2 separate regions of the Homo sapiens genome follow, and region 2 is linked to region 1. The links come from fine-mapping of genetic effects on gene expression. A gene starts in region 1. The other region holds a variant in brackets. All regions are shown on one strand. Distances are from middle to middle.

Region 1 (4,375 bases):
CCTCGTCTACATTTTCAAAGCTCCTGTGTCCTTCGCAGCCAGCTCCTGAAGGGCCCCCTGGGTCTGACACACAGCAGGGACCTGACGGCTGCTCTGGGGTGGAGCTGCTCTTTCCTCCCATCCCTCCAGTGCTGTGCCCAGAGTCATGGCCCTGGCCCCACACAGGGCCTGACCCCCACCCAACCCCTCTCCCATGCAACTCAACTGCAGGATGTGCATCTTCTGGAAACCTGGGCTTCGTGACATCACCCTGTCTCCCTGAGCATGAGCATGGGGCCCTGCAGTGGCCAGGCCCCTCCCCAGCCCATCCTAGGACTACAGGTCCCCTGGGTCTGCTCAGGCTGCCATAACAAAATATCACGGACTGGATGGCTTCAACAACAGCAATCTGTCGTCTCCCATGAACAGTTGGCAGAGGCTGGAAGTCTGAGGTCAAGGTTCAAGCCCACAGGGTTGGCCTCCTGGAGGTCACTCTCTTTTGTTGCCCCTTCCCATGGCCACCCCTGTGTACACACGCCTCGGGGGTCTGTGTGTGTTCACGTTTCCTCTTCTTTTTTTTTTGAGATGGAGTTTCGCTCTCGTCACCCAGGCTGGAGTGCAATGGCGCAATCTCAGCTCACCTGGGTTCAAGCAATTCTCCTGCCTCAGCTTCCGGAGTAGCTGGGATTCAGGAGCGCACCACTGCACCCAGCTAATTTTTGTATTTTTAGTAGAGACAGGGTTTCACCATGTTGACCAGGATGGTCTCCAATGCCTGACTTCAGGTGATCCACCCGCTTCAGCCTCCCAAAGTGCTGGGATTACAGGTGTGAGCCACAGAGCCCGGTCAACATTTCCTCTTCTTGTAAGGACGCGCTGGATGAGGGCCCACCCTAACAGCCTCATTGAATCTCCTGTGTGTTTTGTAACTGATGTTGCTGTCTCCCCCAACGGAGCTCCTTCGGGGCCTAAGCACTTCTGAGTCGTCTCTGGGCCCCCACCTCTGGCTGCAGGATTTTAAGCCAAGGCGTGCAGCCGGGGGACAGCAACGTGAATACGCCGGGAGGGGCACGGGGAGCCTAAGCACAGGGAGGCCCAGGGAAGGGGTCCCCAGTAGGGACGCTGGTGCTCTCGGGCCCCTGCCCATGCCACCCTTGCCTGCCAACCCTCTTCGCATGCAGCGGCACCCTCCTGCCACTGGCATGAGCTTTTCTTTCCAAGTAAGTTTCAGATCCACATTTCCCAGGCCTCAGAGCGGCAGCTGAGGGAGGGAGGAGGCTGGGCAGGCCTCGCTGCTGCACACCCCACTGTGTGCCACGATCAGGTACTGCCTGCTAGGACTCTGACTGGGCCCACGGTGGCTGCAGGACTGTCCTGGGGCCTTCACTGCATGGCCTGAACAGGGGCTGGGCTCCCAGGGAGGAATGATTCATGGCTGGTTCCCGCCCTATAGACAAGACAGTCACAAGGAGCTGGCAGGGTAAGACCTGTATATGCTGCCACCTGGTGCCAGGCACAGCAGCAAGGCCACGTGGACCTAGCCCACCTCACCTCTGCCTGCAGCAGCAGGGCTGGGTAGGGGAGCCGAGGGGAGGGGCAGGCCTCAGACCTCAGTGTCACATCCAGGCAGTGTCAGTGTGAGCCTAGGCTCTGCCACACTGGAGCCCTGTGCTCTTGGGCAAGTGACTTAACCTCTGTGAGCACAGTCTTCACTGATAAATCAGGGAGGGATGTGCCCTCCGAACCAGGTTGTGGCTGCTTCCTATGGGGCTGTGTTAAGCACTGCGGACGCAGAGACTGGAGCTTGCATGAAGGCGCACGGCGTGCTCTGAAGGCAGGGCTGGAGTCCCTGCAGGCTGGTGATTCCTTCAGCTGTGGGGTCAAGGAGGCCTTCCTGGGGAGGCGGTGAATTGGGGCCACAGGGGCCGTGTCTCTCCAAGTCTGGGGCCCAGGCTCCGGTTCCTAGGGCCAGCTCGGGGGCGGCTGCTCAGCTGTCTGCTCTGTGGCTTCAGGCCCCAGAGCAGTTCAAAGGGCCAGCGCCCCCGCCCCCTAAAAAGACCTCCGCCTCCTGAAAGCCTTACCTGCCTGTCGGGGCCCAGCTGCAGGCCCCCTCCCAGGCCGACAGGACGCCAGGATCGTAGAGGGCACCCGCCGCCCAAGGTCACGTCGCCCGTGGCGCCCCCATCCAGGCCCGCCCCCCGCCGCGCCCGATCGCCAGGACTGCGTTTCCACGCCGCCCGGACCCCGCCTGAACCGAGGCCCGCGCGGAAGGCGCCACTGAGTCCCGGCCGGCCGCGGGAGCGCCAGATTCAGCACCCGGCACCCGCCGGAGAAGAGAGGAGAGAAAGGCAGCCGCCTCCCGGCCCCAGCGCCCTGGCCTCGGCCAGCCCCATCCCGGCCCCTTCCTCCTCCCTCTTCTCCCCTTCTCGGGTCCCCCCGTCTCTCCCTGGCTCCCGGCCCCTCCTCTACCCACGCCTCCTCCTCGCCCCCGCCCCGCCCGTCCCCTCCGCGGTCCCCGCCGCCCGCGTACGGGGTGACGCAGCGCCGCCTCCCGCCGCCCGCCGCCCGCCGCCCGGGCCACTGCAGGGGCCGCTAACGGTCCGGCGCCCCTCGGCGTCCGCGCGCCCCCAGCCTGGCGGACGAGCCCGGCGGCGGAGATGGGGGCGACGGGGGCGGCGGAGCCGCTGCAATCCGTGCTGTGGGTGAAGCAGCAGCGCTGCGCCGTGAGCCTGGAGCCCGCGCGGGCTCTGCTGCGCTGGTGGCGGAGCCCGGGGCCCGGAGCCGGCGCCCCCGGCGCGGGTGAGTGTCGCCGCCGCCCGGGTTCGGCCGGACCTGGCCAGGGAGCGGGGGCGGCTTGGGGGACCCGGCTGGGGGGACCGGGTGCAGGGAGCGAGCGGCTGTGGTAAGGCCGGGGGCCCTGGGAGCGCAGGCGCCAGGGAGGGGTCGGGGCAGGCGGGAGGGAGGCCGGGGCCAGGGGCCGGGCTGTGCGCCGCCGTCTGCTCCGGGAACCCGAGGACAAAGCGCCGCGCAGTGGAGGGGAGGCCGGCGCCCCATCCCCGCGGGGAGGTGGGACCCGGGGCGCGGGGTCGTGGCCCCCGGTGCGGTCTGTCCGCAGGGCACCTCTGGACAAGACGGACTGTGGATGGATCCCGAGGGGGGGTGCCAGGCGCTCCCCACCGCGCGCATTGCAGTTTACTCCAAGAACAGATGCTTTTCTTTAGCAGGGATCCGAAACCTGAGAGGCGCCCTTGCAGGGTGAGGACTTCCTGTTAAGAAGTTAAAGAAGGGGCCCCTGACTTTCTGTGGGGTGTGCTCCCTGCTCGGGATGGGGGAATTGGTTTCCGTGCCACGGGTTGGCTACTTGCCCCGCAGAGGCCCTCCGGATGAGGAGAAGAGTGACTTTGGTAAACATGGAGGACGCATAGCCCACCCTGGAGAGAGCCCTGCAGGAGGACAGAGGGTTTGTTTTTGTTTTTTGTTGTTTTTTGTTTGTTTTTTGTTTTTTTTTTTTTTTGAGTCGGAGTGTTGCTCTGTTGCCCAGGCTGGAGTTCAATGCCACGATCTTGGCTCACTGCACCTCCGCCTCCTGGGTTCAAGCAATTCTCCCTGCCTCAGCCTCGGAGTAGCTGGGATTACAGGAGCCCGCTACTACGCCCGGCTAATTTTTGTATTTTAGTAGAGACAGGGTTTCACCATGTTGGCCAGGCTGGTCTTGAATTCCTGACCTCAGGTGATCTGCCCACCTCAGCCTCTCAAAGTGCTGGGATTACAGGTGTGAGCAACCGCACCCAGCCTTTTTTCTTTTTAATTATTGGGGTGGGTGTGGCAGAGGCCAGGATTCATGCTGGATGTGCGGAGCTGGAATGGGGTGGGTGTGGCGGAGGCCAAGATTCTCTGGTGGATATTCGGAGCCTGGGATGACACCTTTAGACCCTGTGGGCAGTCGAGGTCAGGAGTTCTTCTGGGCGCTTTCTGGTGCTGAGTGGTGAGGATCTGTGGGTTGGGTTCTGGTGGGGACAGAGTTGAACGTTAGGTGGGGCCAAGGTCGAGGGGTGGTCTCAGACCCATGACCAACACTTGGTTTCCAGCCCTGGGGTCACCTATCTGTGGCTGGGCATCTGAGACTTGACTTTCCTAAGGTATTTCTCATGTCCCCTTTGGTAGAAATGTCACACCCCAAATATCACCCACCAGGGCCCACACACAAGGAGAACAGGTGCCTGACCTGGGCCCGAAGGGTTTGTACTTTGTTGTAAATCCCTAGGCTTCAGGAAGATGACTGCCTCCCCCAAGCACTTCCTAAGTGCGGGCCACTGGGCTTCAAACCGGATGGGTTCCTGAGAGGCAGCTGCTCCCGTCCTAGGGATGCAGGGGCCGATCTGCAGGGGCTGGAAGT
Region 2 (4,375 bases), 77 kb after region 1:
CAGGGAGGACGTCTCAACAGCCTGGGACCCCTTGAGTGCACAGAATGGCCATGCACGGCGGCTCAGCACAGCAGGGTGCGCCGGGATGGCCCTCAGTGCCACTCCCCAAGTTAGGAAGGCAGGGGCGACTCGCCAATGAAATCGTCCCCTCATCTCCTGCCTGTGTCCCCAGAACAGAAGTCCTCAAGGGCAGGGCCTTTGCTGACCTAGCTCCCTCGGGACCCCCAGGGCCTATGGCAGCACCTGGCAGGGGAACCAAGGTTTACTGATGGGACTCAAGAGCCAAGGAAGGCCCCAGGCAGTGGGCTGAGCCCCATGAGTCCCCACACAACTGTCACAAGCCACAGCTGAGAGCAGTGCGCGCATGCAGCTCTGCTGCACCTAAGCGGGCCTCGCAAGCCCCTGCCAGGCACGGCCCCCAGAAGACCAGACACAGCGGAGCCTCCAGGAGCTCTCGGCAGCCTCACAGACAGCTTTGGCCCACGGTGATAAAGGATGGCCCACCCGCTGCAGCCTCAGCCCAGGGACCGGGGCCCCTAACGCACAGGCAGCCCCAGCTCGGCGAACCCCTACCTGCGGGCGCTCAGGGGTTCCTCTGTCTCCACAGTGTTCTCCTCGGGCTGGAACCGGAAGTCCTCCACGTACTCCCCAAACCGCTCGTAGAACCACTTCTGCAGGCGCGAGGACAGCCCCTGGCTCCGGCGCTCTGCAGGGGGCAGGGACCCGGTGAGGGCACGGCAGGGCTGCACTGCCTGTTCTGGGGTCGGCTCCGGGATCTCAGGGCAGGGAGGGGCCTCACTGCAAGGGCGCGGCCAGCAGAGGCACAAGGAATGCTCGGGGGTAGGTCAGGGAAATGAAGGGTCCCTGTACAAGGGACTTTGAAGGGCTCAGTCCTCTGAAGACACCAAGTGCAAACCAACCGGCACACAGCAGAGCTGCCCCAGCCATGACGACCTCAGTGCCGGGTCTCTCTGCTTTTCATCCCTGTCCCCAGCTCTCTGCCCGCCCTGGGCTCTCGTCAGCGGGCAGCCTGTCCATCCAGGCTGCTCGGCCCACCTCAGACGTCTGCATCAAACCCCCTTTCTACCTCCGGGTTGTCAGAAAGCAGATGGAGAGGTCACTGCCCCAGCCCTGCATATCCTGAGCATCAGCCAATGGATGGCGCAGCGGGAGGCTGTGTCCTGGGCTGGGGGTGCCTGGCGAGCGCAGCCAGCCCAGGGTGAGCGCACGGTGTTGTCGTGCTGATGACCAGCAATGTTTACCAAAAGCGAACACCTCTGGAAAGCAGCCTCCACGGCGGGAAACCGGAAGAATCCCTCGGAAGGGGGGCTCAGGGGTGCAAGCCAGTCCCTCCCTTCAGAAGGCCAGTGAGGAGCCGCCTGCAGCGGGTGCTGCCTCGCCAAAGTTTTGGGCCCTGGGACCAGAGGGCCTGTGGTCACCATACCCAGGGGGCTGCAGGCTCAGGGCAGAGGCTCAAGAGCCACAGGCCAAGGGGGCTGAGGTCTGTGTACCCCAAGGCCACCCGGGCAGGGAGGATGGGGCCAGGGCAGGCTCCTGCGGCTTCTTCCCGCCCCCAAGGCAGCCTGGCAGAGTTTTTAAGGGGAGGGTCCAGGTGAGATCGGCACACTCGTCCCAGCCGTAAGTGAACCGGCCCGGCTGTGTTCCCATGGACTTTATTTATGGACTGAAATTTCAGGTTTATATTACGTTCTCATGTCATGAAATGAAACCATTTAAATCTGTGAAGCCAGGCGGGGGCTGGAGTTTGCTGACCCCCAGGTACAGGGAACTATGCCGGCTGCCTGCAGGGCGTGGGGCAAGATAAAGAACAGGCACTCAGGGATGGAGGACGAGGAGAGAGATAAAAGGGCACATGAACCCCCAACTCCCCACTCACAGCCAACCATAGCCCCACTGCCCACTTGGTCCCCTTCGGGGAGGCACCAGGGCAGCGGCAGTGACCAGCGTGGCTCTCACATCACTGTTCCGTGGGGCAAGGCTGAAACAGAGTACGTGTGTATTCCCCAAAGAACACACAATCACGCTTTAGTTGAGTGACTGGAAATTTGTGATGACGACTATGATGACTCACCACTTCGCATCAGAGACACTAACCCAGTTCTGACGGGAGGAGATTCCCGGATGCCAGCAGGTGCCTGGGCACAGAACCAGCACCTGCCGCCTGCCCACCTGCTGGGGGAGGGGGTATCTGCTCCATTGTTAACCTGGGCCTACAGAACCAGCAGGTGACGCGCAGCCACCCACCCGCCCGCCTGCCTGTCCACCCGCCCACCAGGGTGTACCTGCTCCATTGCTGGCCTGGGCCTGCCCTTTTGGGGGCTGCTGAGCCATCTGCTCCTCGGTTCTTAAAAAGCAGGGAGAGAAGAGACAAGAGGTCTGTTAGTTCCAAACTCCATGCCCAGTCAGGCACCCCCGAGGGCTCTCGCGACC[G/A]TGTACTGCACAGGAGAGGTCAGGGACAGCAGGGCTCTCTCCAGAGTCTCCACTGCTGAAATGCTGGTTCCGAGCGTATCCAGGCAAGCACAGAGCTGCCTTCCTAACAGGCACACGTTTTGTTTTTAAACAACCAGCATCTTTCACCACTCTTTCCTTTCCTATTCATTTTAGCACACTTGCTTCTTTCAACATCATTAAACTCAGAATACTCTCATATCACCAACCCGTCTGCTAATGAAAAGATACTGATCAACACACATGTGTTTATCAGGCACCAAGCCAGGCCACAGGCTGGGTGCCACCTGTCAGCAGCCTGTACCCAGCTCCCAGCTCAGCCTACTCCAGCGACCTGCCTGGACTGGGCAGGGGCACTAGACGGCCACTAGGGTCTGCTTCCGTCCCACACCCAGCCCCTCCAGCCAAGGCCTGTGAGCAGGTGCAGCACAGAACCGGGCCAAGTGCTGTGTGGTCGCCCCTAACCTTCCTAACTCTTGGGAAGCGGGAGTGGGGAGGGAGGAAGCTGGGGGAGGAGTAAACCCTGAGAAGAGAACAGAGGGCGGAGCACAGGGCACACAGGGCACGGCCAGGTAAGCAGCGGGCAGGAAGCAGACAGTGAGGTTTTCAGGGGACTTTGGATCCACAATGGAGAGAATCTCTGCCTACTGACAAGTAGCCTTAAACCAAGGTGACTTTCTGAGAATTTTCTTAAAAACCAAAATAGAGGTTTGCATAAACAGAACTGCTGTGCTTTAATCCTGCAGCTTCAGAGTGTGTGGTATGTGTGTGTGCAGTGTGTGCGCACATGTGTCTGCATGTTTGTGTGTGCCCTCACACACCTACCCACCCTGGACAGACCACAGCCACCCAGACCCACCCCAGATCTGCACCAGGACGACAAGGAAAGAGGAGGTCACTCTGCCTGGGACTGCTCTTCCTTCACCCCTCCTCCTTCAGGCTTCCAGAAGGTTCCTAAGCGCCGCCCCCATGTAAAGCAGGGGAGAGCCCTTAATGCTCCCAGGACCTTCAGCTTCCACTTCCTGGGTCACAGCCTGGATGTTCCTTCACTGCCCATTCCCCACCCATTCCCAAGGCAGAGACTGTGCGAGATGGGGCTCCCTGCGTTCTTACAGCTGACCCGGGCTGGGCACACCTGCCACCAAGGGGCTTTGGTAAAAGATGAGGACCAGATCCTGGAGTGGGGCTGGCGGGAGTGAGAGGATGGGAAACAGAACACAGGGAGCAGGGCCACGGGGACAGCCTCAGGCCACCTTAGCCACCGGGGGAGAAGCAGCGTCCCGTGGCGGGGATGGCACTGTGGCCAAATGCCTGGGGACCGCACCTGTCCCTGGGATCTCCCAGCGTGGCAGGTCAGGTCTCTGTTGCAACTCTACATAATTAAATGTAATTTAAGCTTTGAGCTTCTGTGGATTTTCCCAGAAGGTTCAGCATCAGGTAAAGCGCCTGCCGAGGCCCATGCACCCATTTCTGGTCTGGGAGGTTCTGCCAGGGCGGAATAGGAAAGTGAGGCCTCTCCCTCCCCCACACCAGCTGGATGCCCCCACATGAGCCCCCACATGAGCCCCCCAGGGCACTCCACAAGGTCATGCTGACCTGCAGGAGGCGGGCAAGGAAGAAGTGGGAGTCAGCCCAGCGGATCCCCCGTCTTCCCACACACTAAACCTGAGGGTGCTGAAGGGAGCCGCTTCCTCAGGGCCAGCTAAGCAGCGACACTTGGAGTCCTGACAATGACACACGGCCCCCGGAGCGCTCATAGCAGGCAGTGCTCAGCTGGGGTGTCCCAGAGATGCCGTGTGCCTCCCTAACTGGTGACAGCCATCCATGCAGGTCATGGGGGCCACAGACAAAGGTGTGGCCAATGGTGGTGGGAGGCTGAGGTGGGAGACCTGGAGGGAGGCTAAGT

Alleles and levels. Positions count from the first base shown, and alleles are read on the strand shown. Sizes are in standard deviations (SD) of each study's normalised expression.
In carriers of allele G in region 2, the expression in lymphoblastoid cells of the gene that starts at base 2,533 in region 1 tends to be higher than with A alone (small effect, 0.22 SD a copy in GTEx).

What was found. PIP is the estimated chance that this variant, and not a neighbour inherited with it, causes the effect. A credible set is the group of variants that fine-mapping cannot tell apart.
Region 2: its variant is the best candidate, but not a certain one, in a credible set for the expression of CERK in lymphoblastoid cells (GTEx, PIP 0.81).

What each region holds. Positions count from the first base shown.
Region 1 is chr22:46,736,410-46,740,784 of GRCh38, reverse strand. It overlaps CERK (ceramide kinase), which reads left to right and starts at 2,533. Exons shown (of 13, transcript NM_022766.6): 1 at 2,533-2,778. The coding sequence starts at 2,637. RefSeq lists enhancers at 1,691-2,020, 1,394-2,052, 3,291-3,460, 4,148-4,375 and a silencer at 2,181-3,140.
Region 2 is chr22:46,659,371-46,663,745 of GRCh38, reverse strand. It overlaps GRAMD4 (GRAM domain containing 4), which reads right to left. Exons shown (of 19, transcript NM_015124.5): 5 at 2,304-2,365; 6 at 574-706. Among named protein-coding and RNA genes, the nearest start is that of GRAMD4, 41 kb to the right of the region's middle. RefSeq lists an enhancer at 1,305-1,888. The variant G/A (reference allele first, on the strand shown) is at 2,452.